Linked DNA regions of Homo sapiens. The protein of the gene in region 2 interacts with the protein of the main gene of each other region in a pairwise test. Each region holds a gene or a part of one and is shown on either strand. Other genes may lie near its edges.

The links.
Region 1: the proteins of FAM20C (region 2) and FAM118B interact in a two-hybrid assay, tested with the Homo sapiens proteins (one large-scale study listed by BioGRID and IntAct).

The regions. Positions count from the first base shown.
Region 1 is NC_000011.10:126,249,529-126,253,341, reverse strand, and holds part of FAM118B (protein FAM118B), read right to left. Parts: intron 2,837-3,813; coding exon 2,609-2,836; intron 1-2,608. UniProt on the Homo sapiens protein: May play a role in Cajal bodies formation.
Region 2 is NC_000007.14:195,412-199,224, forward strand, and holds part of FAM20C (extracellular serine/threonine protein kinase FAM20C precursor), read left to right. Parts: intron 1-142; coding exon 143-321; intron 322-1,721; coding exon of another isoform or gene 1,722-2,089; exon of another isoform or gene 2,090-3,813. UniProt on the Homo sapiens protein: Golgi serine/threonine protein kinase that phosphorylates secretory pathway proteins within Ser-x-Glu/pSer motifs and plays a key role in biomineralization of bones and teeth.

The DNA.
Region 1 (3,813 bases), on a different chromosome or scaffold from region 2:
AGTAGTCAAGAGGCACCGAGATTTAGAATTTGAATGTTACTAGGCCCCATTCTGACTACCAGTCAATGTCTTTAACCATTAGACTGCAACACTGCCCCTAATGTGGGCTGAAAATACAATGCAAATCTTGAGGCCCAAGGATGAAATGAGAAGGAAAACATCAAATGTGATAGATATCCTCAGCTTTTAAAAGGTCCTTATGCTTCTGATATCCATGAACACACTTGGTCATAATCTTTGGAAATTTTATCACAAATAGCATAGAAGCTGCTAGTTTTAAAATTTCAATCATTTGTTTGTTTGTTTTTAGACAGAGTCTTGGTCTGTTGCCCAGATTGGAGCACAGTGGCGCAATCTTGGCTCACTGAAACCTCTGCCTCCTGGGTTCAAATGATTCTCCTGCCTCAGCCTCCCAAGTAACTGGGATTACAGGCGTGCACCACCACTCCCAGCTAGTTTTTGTATTCTTAGTAAAGACGGGGTTTCACCATGTTGGACAGGCTGGTCTCAAAATCCTGACCTCAAGTGATCCACCCACCTCGGCCACCCAAAATGCTGGGATTACAGACGTGAACCACTGTGCCCAGCCTATTTATTTAGAGACATGATCTTATGCTGTCACCCAGGCTGGAGTGCAACAGTGTGATCACAACTCACTGTAGCCTCGACTGCCTCAGCTCAATCGATCGTCCTGCTTCAGCCTCCCAAGTAGCTGGGACCACAGGCAAACACCACCATGCCCGGCTAATTTTTAAACTTTTTGTAGAGATGGGGTCTTGCTATGATGCCCAGGTTGGTCTTGAACTAGGCTCAAGTGATCCTCCCGCCTCAGCTTCCCAAAGTGCTGGGGTTACAGGCCTGAGCTGCTGTGCCCAGCCCAATCATTTATTAATCAAAAAAATATTTACCAAGCACCTAACTGTCATATTTGAGACATGAGGGTTGTATTTGAGTTATGAGGGTAAGAAAGACTAACATGATACCTATCCAAGTGAAGTTACTATTCCTATGGGGTAAACAGTCAGAAAACAGATAAACAGCCAAGATAAAAACTGTGCTGGGTGTGGTGGCTCATGCCTGTAATCCCAGCACTTTGGGAGGCTAAGGTGGGCAGATCACCTGAGGTCAGGAGTTCGAGACCAGCCTGGCCAACATGGTGAAACCCTGTCTCTACTGAAAATACAAAAATTAGCCAGACGTGATGGCGGGTGCCTGTAATCCCAGCTATTCGGGACGCTGAGGCAGGAGAATCGCTTGAACCCAGGAGGAGGAGGTTGCAGTGAGCTGAGATCATGCCATTGCACTTCAGCCTGGGCGACAAGAGCAAAACTCCATCTCAAAACAAAACAAAACAAAACAAAACAAAACGGCCAGGCACATGCCTGTAATCCCAGTACTTTGGGAGGCTGAGGTTAGCAGATCACCTGAGGTCAGGAGTTTGAGACTAGCCTGACCAACATGGAGAAACCCCGTCTCTACCAAAAATACAAAATTAGCCGGGCGTTGTGGCACATGCCTGTAATCCCAGCTACTCAGGAGGGTGAGGCAGGAGAATCACTTGAACCCAGGGCAACAAGAGCGAAACTGTCTCTCAAAAAAAAAAAAAAAAAGCTGCAAGTTAATACTAAGTGCTACAAAGGAAACGGACAAGAGACTGGATAAAAAAAATAAGTATCCAATTTAAATAGGATGGTCAGAGAAGGTCTCTCAGGAGGGGATCCCTAGGTTGAGAGTTATAAATGAAGAAGGAGCTGACCATACAGAATATGAGGGCGTAGGCGGAAGACACTTGGACCAGAGAAAACTAGTCTTCATGGGGCAGCTTTTCTCTAAATTCAATTCCCTTTAAATCCTGCCATCAAGGTCAGCAAAACCACAAGAGTGGTATTTCAGCTACCACTCTGGCAGGGGCAATACTGTAGTACTGAATGCCAGCAGGCAAATCACTTGTCTATTCAACTCTACTTAGTTGGGCTCTAAATTGGACATAAAGGCAGATTCCTGAGGAAAACAAAGTGTAGGAAAAAACATTACAAAAATCACAGAGTAGGACCAATGAGACTTTAAGAACTCATCTCATTAGCTGACACAGATCAACATCTATAATTCAATAATTATGGTAGGTACAGTATAGACTATGCTAAAACAAAGTCTGCTGAGGTTTCCACTAAACATTAACCTCAATTCAGCCATCGCTTGGCCTGGAAGTTGTTCTTCCAATCAGTATAAAGTAGTTTTCATACATTTCCAATAGATGCCATAAAAAAAGGTATCCTAAAATAGAACCAGCATTATCAATATTACACCACTGAATACTGTCAAGTGCTAAAGAGATCTTACAGTTCAAGTGACTTCCTCTAATCTTGCTTTAAAACTGGATGAAATTGTCAAGAGTCATAGAACTGAACACTTTTAAGTTCTATGCATTTTACTGTATATTGATTTGATCTTTAAAAAGAAAGAAAAAAGAAAAACAAAAACTCCAACCAGGGAAAAAATTTTTCCTTTCTAGCTCTACATAAATACCAATATACCAACTAGAAAAGAGCTTTTCTGAGGAAGATAAAATCCACTAGCCTGAAGAAGGGACCAATGCTTTACTTTTTACCTTTTTCTCATCAGTAAGGTCAAGGGATTCAAGCTGTTTCCCCTGATCTGCTGCATACAGTTCCAAGAGATTATCAAAATTTGTAGTTAATACGAGGGCTCCATTTTCCATCAGGTGGAGAACTGACTGAAGTAGCTGTTTTCCAGAATCTTCCATCTTTGACTCCAAGTCATCAAATACTTCATATAAACAGTCCTTGAAAAATGTGGATCGAACATTACTGGTACGCTGAGGAGGGATTTGAAAAAAGAAAATTAGTCCAAAGTGCTTTGGTAGGTCAGTTGTTTTAGTTACAGCAGTAACAAATTTTGGAAGAATATTTTGAATTCAAAACAGAGATAAAGGCCAGGCGCAGTGGCTCACGCCTGTAATCCCAGCACTTTGGGAGACCGAGGCGGGCGGATCACGAGGTCAGGAGATCGAGACCATCCTGGCTAACACGGTGAAACCCCGTCTCTACTAAAAATAAAAAAAATTAGCAGGGCGTGGTGACAGGCGCCTGTAGTCCCAGCTACTTGGGAGGCTGAGGCAGGAGAATGGTGTGAACCCAGGAGGCGGAGCTTGCAGTGAGCCGAGATCGCGTCACTGCACTCCAGCCTGGGCGACGGAGCGAGACTCCATCTCAAAAAAAAAAAAAAAAATCCCGGGGATAAAATATTATCTATCTCATACGAACGTAATAAGGAAGATGAGATGATACATGCCAAGTGCTTAGCACAATGCTTAGCAGATAGCAAGTGCTACTATACGTAAGCTTCCTAAAATAGGCATTTTTATAGAATGAAGAAAATAAACCTGGCCAAGGGATATGAATTTACTGTCGGTATTAAAGGGAAGCTGGGGTACAAAGCAGAGCGACAACTACCCTCTCATGAGGTGCCAGGTAAGAAGGCAACACTTTCCGTTCATCTTGCCTTATGTAGGGAAACGCCACTGAGACACAGCCCTAATTGTGGTTTGGCATCTCCTTTTCTTTTTCTTTTTTTTTTTTTTTTTTTTTTTGAGACGGAGTCTCATTCTGTCACCCAGGCTGGAGTGCAGTGGCGTGATCTCGGCTCACTGCAACCTCCGCCCCGCCAGGTTCAAGCAATTCTCCTGCCTCAGCTTCCCAAGTAGCTGGGATTACAGGCGCCTGCCACTGTGCTCAGCTAATTTTTGTATTTTTAGTAGAGACGGGGTTTCACCATCTTGGCCAGGCTGGTCTT
Region 2 (3,813 bases):
TCTTTAAGCAGAGGCGCCTTCAACACATCTGCACTTGCTTGAACCCAAAGTTAAAAACACTGGCGTCGGTGCCCTCTCCCCGTCATCCGACTCACGGGCCTGTTCTTTCCATGCTGATGTTCGTCCTCGCTGCTCCCTGCAGGCCGCATGCGGGTGCTGAAGGTGCAGAATTCCTCTCCCCCGGGGAGGCGGCCGTGGACTCCTATCCCAACTGGCTCAAGTTCCACATTGGTATCAACCGGTACGAGCTGTACTCCAGACACAACCCGGCCATCGAGGCCCTGCTGCACGACCTCAGCTCCCAGAGGATCACCAGCGTGGGTAGGTGTCCTTGGGTGCACTCAGGGCCGTCTGTGTGCCGGCTGTGTGGCATCAGGGCTGCTGGGGCAGGCTATGTGTTAGAGAGGTCTGGGAGGCCGTTGCTCATTACGGCAGCGTCACCTCCTGCAGCAATCTGCACGGGCAGCGAGGAGGGACAGAGGGCTCGCGTCTCGTGTGCTCTCACACTGGATGTGCTCCTGATCTGCCGCACGATGAGCGGGGAGACGCCTGGACAGCCGGTCCACTGCGCTCTGCGTCCTCACCTGGGTGGTCCCGGGGGTGCCAACTGGATGACAGAGTCCTTCCCTCCTGGGGTAGAGGAATAGAGGGGTATCTCTGGCGGCGGTGACCCCTCCACCGGAAGCGTGTGCATGGAACTCTCCTGCTTTTCTACACACGACCCTGGCTGGGTGGGGAGACAGCCATGAGCCTGCTTCTTGTGGTTTTGAAGCCGTCCTTCGTCAGACCTCAGCAAGGCGCTGTGCAGTTTCATACTGAGGAGACATAGGCAGGGCTCAGGACGGAGGCCTGGGCCTCCCAGATGGAGGAGTTTGAAGGCAACATCTCCAGGTACTTTGGGATCTGCTGAATTGGACAAAAAAGGGCATCCAGTTGCTGATTTCAGGAAAATATGCCACTGCAGCTTCTGAGCGTGGAGGTTTGGTGCCATTGTTCTCAGCTTGTAGGCGATTGTTTGTGAAGGTCCCATTTGTCACCAGTGCTTGGAGAGGTAGTGAGGGCGGGGCTGAGGCCCTTTAGTGGGAGCAGCTGCTCCCCGGGGATTGCAGGGAGTGGGCCTGGGTGCACACAGCTGTGGGCAGGTGCAGAGGCCATGACAGCCTGAAGGCAGGGCTTTCTTTGCGCTGTGTGATGAGGCCAGCAGTCCCAGGCATTAGCTTCATGTGTGTCTCAGAAGCAACCTTGGTGCTGAAAGGGTCCCAGCAGCCTGGGGTTCTGTCCAGTTGCTGACACAGGACTTAGGTGTCCCCTTTCAGGCCAGCAGGTAGGTTCTCCTGAGCTCTTCGGGGCTGTTTCTGGCTCTCTCTGCCGGGTGCTGAGTTGTTTGCTGGGCACTCACCTGGTCATGGGGAGACAGAACTTGCAGCTCTCTCCCCACCCCTTGATCAGCTCACCTCATAACAGAGATCAGCTGGACAAGCTGGGAGTCCTCTTCCCTCCATGCTGCCTGGGAGTAACCTGAACCCCTGCCCCCCTCCAGGCCCCCCTCCGTGAAAGCGCTGCCTTTCTCCTGCCCCTGCAGCGGTCTGAGGGCTTTCAGCTGTGCTGGGGAACAGTCCTGCAGACAGCCACAGCCAGAACGTCCCTTCTGCCCCTGAGAGTGAGCATGGCCATTAAGGAAATATCCGATGCATTGATCAACATGTTTGTCCATTCAGCAGATTTTACTGGCACCTCCTGCATGTCAGACCCCCTTTCTGGGTGGTGGGGAGTTGAGGATGAGTTCAGCCTCAACGAGATCTGCTGCCTCTGTGGACCTGACAGCCCCAGGAAGAGACACACACGCACAGTGCCCGATCCTGAGGAGGAACGAGCACTTCAGAGCCGTGCACGCCAGCCAGGCCGTGTGGAGAGGAGGGGGCTCCACTGGGAGGGGCTGAGGACCTTCCACAGGGTCTGTCGGGCAGCTTACCTTCCAGGTGGGTCCGTCTTGGCAGGGAGAGGAATGAGAGAGCCGTGCACACCAGCCAGGGCGTTCGGGAGGAGCAGCACGCAAGTTAGAAAGTCCCCAGTGCCGCTGTCCGTATGAGCTTCTCTCCAGCTCATTTTCCCCATCTGTCCAGTGGGATCTCGCTGCGTGGGACCAATGCAAGGATAGGATGAGATGTGCATGTGAGCAAGCTTGTTAAATATTAACTAGTACTTTGTGCGTGGCCTTCCACAACAGTCCCCTCGTGTGCACAGGCAGGGTCTGAGCAGAGGGAGGGCTTTGTGGATTCCAAAGGCCACCAGGCCCTTGGCAGGCAACTGCAGCTCGCCACCTCCCTCACCGACCGGTCAGCTTTCCAACACCAACACTGAAGAGGTGTGGGAGTTCTGTGCCAGGAGCTCCCAGAGCAGCTTCAGGGAGAGTGTGGGGCCCCCTGGGACCTGGGGCATCTTTGCCCACCTTAGGAGTGCTTTGTCCATCTGGACAAGCTAGGCTTGGCTCACTGCCACCCCTCTTTGGTCCAGCTGTCCCGGGGCAGTGGTGCCCAGGCTGCCTGACATTGCAGGGGTGTGGACAGAGCCCTTGCCAGGGAATCCCTACCCCAGGATTCTGGTGTGGCCTCCGCCTGGGTGTGTCCTGGTTAATTCCTGTGCCTACTGAAGGCCTGCCCCAGCTGATCTCGCTCGCTCGCCTCCTAGACCATGCTGGCCACATTGGTTCTCATCCAGTCTTCTGGGGTGGGGACCCGTCCAAGGACAGGCTGGCTGCTCAGTCATTCTGCAGGGCCAAGCAGGGCCTGCAAGGACGATGGGCAGACACAGCCGCATCACCCAGGCAGGACAGCAGGCTCTGGCCCAGGAGATCTGGGGGTGAATCCTGGCTCTGCCAGCCATTAGCCAGAGTGGAAGTGGGCAAATGGATTAACGCCTCCAGCACCTGGTTTCTCACCGAGAACACAGAGAAGGTTATAATCTGGACCTGGTATAATCTGGACTCTGACTTACAAATCTGAATGCCAAGCAAAACCCATTCACTAGCGAAAACTGACTCAGGCTGAACGTATTTAGGGGCAAAACCTAAATTGTCGAGGCTAGTTAAAAGTCCTGATTTTTCTCTGTTACATTGAATAGTCACATGTTCCTCTGAGGAACAGGAGTGGGTTTAATTATGGGGTTCTGCCCTAGACCCGTGTGGGCATGCCATGATCCACACCATGCACCACGTGTGCCTTTGTCATCGAAATACCTGCAGTTCCCAAATACATCTGGCCTCACAGGGTTGTTGGGGCTTAAATGTGCAAATACGAGTAAAGAGGTGAGAGCGGAGCCTGACAGCGCACCTGCTGGGCAGGGTCTCCAACACTGCAGCATTTTGGGGGAAGCTCTCCTACTGGGTGGGGTCTTTGTACAGCAGCAGCATTTCAAGGTGGGCTGATCCTTCTCATCTGGGGAAGCCAGGGCTGGGCAGGTGCCTGAGCCTCATGAGGGTCTCAGTCTAGATGCTGGGCCCTATTCTCCCTGCTGCCTTGGGCTTGGAGATGCTCACAGGTGAGTTCTCATTTGTGAAGAGGTCTGTCTTCCTGAGGAAGCAGGGGACCCTCACCTGTGAACCAAGTGTGCCATGGGAGCTGCTCCATGTCCAGGTCCAGGTCTCCTGGTCTGCAGGGAACGGCACAAGAGGGCTGGCCTAGGCCAGGAGGATGTGATCTGTCCTAGAAGGGGGCTGACCTGCTTGCTGACCCCGCTTGCTGCTGCCTGGCTGGCCTGACTCAGCCACGGCTGTTCCGAGGGCCCTTCTGAGTACGAACTTCCAGTTGGAGGATC